2 separate regions of the Homo sapiens genome follow, and region 1 is linked to region 2. Evidence: fine-mapped expression QTL. A gene starts in region 2. The other region holds a variant in brackets. All regions are shown on one strand. Distances are from middle to middle. Region 1 overlaps STAMBPL1 (STAM binding protein like 1). Region 2 holds the start of FAS (Fas cell surface death receptor).

Region 1 (2,500 bases), 79 kb before region 2:
TCTTTCTCACCTGATGATCTGAAAGAGTGTATTGAAAATCCCACTAATCAATATGTATATATATTTTTAAAAGAAACTGAAGGAGATTGCATTCCCAAGGACAGATGAATTGAAAAACGACCTTTTAAAGAAATATAACGTAGAATACCAAGAATATTTGCAAAGCAAAGTAAGTTCAGTTGGTACATTTATTTCATGACTATTTTATGTACAAGTATTTTTTGAATTTCATTTTTATGTGATGAGTTTTTCAAATGTTTTGTGCATTTAAATTAAAAATTAAAGATGCAGTGATATGGAACCAATAAAAAATTTATGCTGATATCCAGGTTAAGCAGTTTCACCAACAATGTGGTATTTCTATTTCCCTACAATATCTAACAAAGCAATGTGTTAGAAAACAGATTTCCTGCAGCGATTTAAGTAGAACTTTTTGATTAACTCTTGAGCCAGATAACCTTGAGCCAGATGGCTGCTCTTTTGCCAGATGAACAGCCAGTAGGAGGTAGGGAGAGCAGTATATGGTTTCTGATGTGCCTAATGATGTAGGCCTTAGAAATGTGAATTTGATTCTTAGAATGTTACAGTCAGTATTGCATTGAGATAGAATAACAGCTAACCTTGTGGTTGAAATGTAATCATATCACCCAAAAGTGGTGGCTTCTGGATTGTTATTAATAAAGAGTGAACATTATGATAATGTCTGAGAGGCAGAAAGGCATTGGAAGAAGAAATTGGCCAGTGAATGTATGGGATACTCACGTTCAACATAGCATCATTATAGATGTTATTTTGCTTTTTTGTTTGTGTTTTATTTGCTTTAGGGGTTACCACCTTCACTGACTCTCACTTCAGTTCAATCTCATCATCTCTGAGAATGCTCATTGAGCTTTTTGACTTTCTATGGGCATAGGTGGAAGGCTGGCTTGAGTGGAGAGTTTTAACGAAGTGGTAGAGGGAATGGTGAAATTGGAAATGTCCCTCAAGTGTGTATATTAATAATGTGACTTGAAATATGAAAGATAGAAATTTTCTTGGAGGGTAAGACAAAGCAACAACAGCAAGGGAGACGAAAGCCCAGTTCAAGTCTCCTTTCCACGGTCAGCAATGTGTATGATCTTCCTCTTCATGATCTTCCTGGGAGGAACAGGCTCTGCAGCTGTTGCATGTTTTGCCTTTGATACCAGTCACTTCATAGCCTACAGTGGTGACCCATGTGGGAATCTCTGTGGGTTTAGAATAGCAGGACTGAGCCTAGGAGAGA[T/C]AAACAGCAATGCCTGTGAGCCCTTGCTTCACCAGCATTAGCATCATTTGGAAGCTTGTTAGACACGCAGAATCTCAGGCCCCACCCCAGACCTGCTGAATCAGGATTTGCAACTGCAATTAGCCCCAGGATGATTTGTATGCACCTGAATGTGCCACTATAAGCTGTGTCCCCCATGCTACCGCCATCTTACAGTAGCTCCCAAATCTAGTTTCTATCAAAATCACCTGAAAGGCTCATTAATATTTCATATTATCTGACCTAATAAGCCTGGATATTTTGTTAGAACTGGAGAGCTTGGGACTCCTCCTTTTTAGCAAAACTCTGGGTTAGTGGTGACAGAGAAGGTTGGAACACATTTTAATAACCATTTTTTAGTGATTCCTTCTTATCCATAAATTTCCAGCAGAGTATGAGTTCTAGAGTCAAATGCGAAAGGTTCTAGGGCAGCACTGTTCAATAGAACTCCTGTGATGATGGAAGTGTTCTGTTTGGCACTTTCCAATATGGTATCCACTAGCCACATGTGGCTTCTGGGTACTTAAATGTGACTGACTAGTGTCCCTGAGGTACTGAATTTCTAATTTTGTTTAATTTTAATCAAGTTCAAATAACCACATGTGGCTAGTGGCCACTATATTAGAAGTGCAGTAGGGGTGAGATATTTTGTTTCATATGGTCTTGTTGGTCTGACTGAGCAAACAACCTTGACGTTGATTTTCCAGTATTTAAAAGCATTAGGGAATGAAGGGATCCTGATTGTCATGGCCTGTCTCTGGTAAAATATCAGTGGATTTAGAACTGCTATGTTAATCAGATCAAGGGGCTTTTGCCCTGATGTTATGTATTTCTCTCACTGTTCCATGAGTGTCCCTGTGGGCATATCACAGTATCTAGCATTTTCTCTGTCTGCTTGAAGACTGAAAATGTCTAATTCCAGTTCAATGTTTCTCCTTGGAAACTAACCTTCTCTTCTGGCTGCCACACTTTTTAGAACAAATATAAAGCTGAAATTCTCAAAAAATTGGAGCATCAGAGATTGATAGAGGCAGAAAGGAAGCGGATTGCTCAGATGCGCCAGCAGCAGCTAGAATCGGAGCAGTTTCTGTTTTTCGAAGATCAACTCAAGAAGCAAGAGTTAGCCCGAGGTCAAATGCGAAGTCAGCAAACCTCAGGGCTGTCAGAGCAGATTGATGGGAGCGCTTTGTCCTGCTTTTCCACACACCAGAACAATTC
Region 2 (2,500 bases):
TAATTGGGAAGGGAGAGAGGTTGCAGAGTGAGGTGCAGAGCTTGGTGGACGATGCCAAAGGAATACTGAAACCTTTAGTGTGTCCAGTCTGGAACTGCATCCAAATTCAGGTTCAGTAATGATGTCATTATCCAAACATACCTTCTGTAAAATTCATGCTAAACTACCTAAGAGCTATCTACCGTTCCAAAGCAATAGTGACTTTGAACAGTGTTCACCAGAGCACGAAAGAATTACAAGATTTTTTTTTAAAGAAAATTGGCCAGGAAATAATGAGTAACGAAGGACAGGAAGTAATTGTGAATGTTTAATATAGCTGGGGCTATGCGATTTGGCTTAAGTTGTTAGCTTTGTTTTCCTCTTGAGAAATAAAAACTAAGGGGCCCTCCCTTTTCAGAGCCCTATGGCGCAACATCTGTACTTTTTCATATGGTTAACTGTCCATTCCAGAAACGTCTGTGAGCCTCTCATGTTGCAGCCACAACATGGACAGCCCAGTCAAATGCCCCGCAAGTCTTTCTCTGAGTGACTCCAGCAATTAGCCAAGGCTCCTGTACCCAGGCAGGACCTCTGCGCTCTGAGCTCCATTCTCCTTCAAGACCTCCCCAACTTCCCAGGTTGAACTACAGCAGAAGCCTTTAGAAAGGGCAGGAGGCCGGCTCTCGAGGTCCTCACCTGAAGTGAGCATGCCAGCCACTGCAGGAACGCCCCGGGACAGGAATGCCCATTTGTGCAACGAACCCTGACTCCTTCCTCACCCTGACTTCTCCCCCTCCCTACCCGCGCGCAGGCCAAGTTGCTGAATCAATGGAGCCCTCCCCAACCCGGGCGTTCCCCAGCGAGGCTTCCTTCCCATCCTCCTGACCACCGGGGCTTTTCGTGAGCTCGTCTCTGATCTCGCGCAAGAGTGACACACAGGTGTTCAAAGACGCTTCTGGGGAGTGAGGGAAGCGGTTTACGAGTGACTTGGCTGGAGCCTCAGGGGCGGGCACTGGCACGGAACACACCCTGAGGCCAGCCCTGGCTGCCCAGGCGGAGCTGCCTCTTCTCCCGCGGGTTGGTGGACCCGCTCAGTACGGAGTTGGGGAAGCTCTTTCACTTCGGAGGATTGCTCAACAACCATGCTGGGCATCTGGACCCTCCTACCTCTGGTGAGCCCTCTCCTGCCCGGGTGGAGGCTTACCCCGTCTTAGTCCCGGGGATAGGCAAAGTGGGGCGGGCGCGGGACGCGTGCGGGATTGCGGCGGCAGCGGCGCACGCGGGCACCTGGGAGCGGCGGGCTGCTGCGGGAGGCGTTGGAGACTGGCTCCCGGGGGCTGTTAGGACCTTCCCTCAGGCCCGGGTGCTCAGAACGCTGGAGGACTTGCTTTTCTTGGGCCTTGATGCGAAGTGCTGACCCCGCTGGGCAGGCGGGGCAGCTCCGGCGCTCCTCGGAGACCACTGCGCTCCACGTTGAGGTGGGCGTGGGGTGCGGACAGGAATTGAAGCGGAAGTCTGGGAAGCTTTAGGGTCGCTGGAGGGGGACCCCGGTTGGAGAGAGGAGCGGAACTCCTGGACAAGCCCTGACAAGCCAAGCCAAAGGTCCGCTCCGGCGCGGGTGGGTGAGTGCGCGCCGCCCCGCGGGGGCGGGGAGAGAGCCTGCAGCCTTCAGAACAGATATTGCTCATTTTCTGGCAGTTCTCAGACGTAGGAAATAAGTCAGCACCGAAGCAGTGGTTAAGCCGGAGGGCTCGGAAGAACGGCACCTTTTCTTTCTCGAAAAAGTTATATGGGGGCTGAATGAGCTTCTGGAGGCTTGTTTACCGTTTTTTATTGTCACACAGAAAAAGAAACTGCCTTGTCTCCCTTCCGGGAATTCTCTCTTTAAGACTGTAAGTCGCTGCCTGAGTGGTTTCATTTTGTTTTGTTTTTCTGCCCTTCTCTTTCTTCTTTTGCCCTTTCTTAGCTTGCACTCCCATGGTGATTTCTGCTTGGTCTCCTGCTGGGGTTGGTGGTACTCGTTCCCACCGCACAGAACCCGGCGCCTATTATTGGCCAAGAAACTTGAGCAGCCTGTTTTGAAAAGTCCCTCGCTCAGAAATGCCAGCTTGCAGATGGCTAATCAAAGAGACGTGGATCCAGGAGGCTCATTTGAGTACCGGAGCCTCTGAGAGTCCATGGATTTTTATTTTATTGGGCCCCAACAAAGTGCCAGGCATAGCGAGAGAAGTGTTTACAAATGTGATCTCCGCGGATTCTCACGAGAGCCATGTAGTGGGGAAGATAACCACATCCCCATTTTACAGATGGCGAAATGAGGTTCAGAGAGCTTCAGTAATTCAGCCAAGATCACACAGCTAGTAAATGGGAGATATGGGATTGAACTCAGATCTAATTCCAAAACTCAGGCTGTTCGCTGATTGCATCTGATATCCAGATTACACCAAGAGGCTGAGATGTCTGGGTCCATTTTATGATTAGAAAAAAAAATCCTGTTCCTTTCAGAAATAGTGTGCACTAT

The links. PIP is the estimated chance that this variant, and not a neighbour inherited with it, causes the effect. A credible set is the group of variants that fine-mapping cannot tell apart.
Region 1: its variant is the best candidate, but not a certain one, in a credible set for the expression of FAS in whole blood (INTERVAL, PIP 0.78).

What each region holds. Positions count from the first base shown.
Region 1 is chr10:88,910,843-88,913,342 of GRCh38, forward strand. It overlaps STAMBPL1 (STAM binding protein like 1), which reads left to right. Exons shown (of 11, transcript NM_020799.4): 5 at 74-169; 6 at 2,259-2,500. Among named protein-coding and RNA genes, the nearest start is that of ACTA2-AS1, 21 kb to the right of the region's middle. The variant T/C (reference allele first, on the strand shown) is at 1,265.
Region 2 is chr10:88,989,756-88,992,255 of GRCh38, forward strand. FAS (Fas cell surface death receptor) reads left to right here and starts at 1,043. Exons shown (of 9, transcript NM_000043.6): 1 at 1,043-1,151. The coding sequence starts at 1,122. FAS-AS1 (FAS antisense RNA 1) reads right to left here. Exons shown (of 1, transcript NR_028371.1): 1 at 1,667-2,500. It also overlaps a transcript of ACTA2 not described here. RefSeq lists enhancers at 196-707, 708-1,218, 1,359-1,768, 1,899-1,978.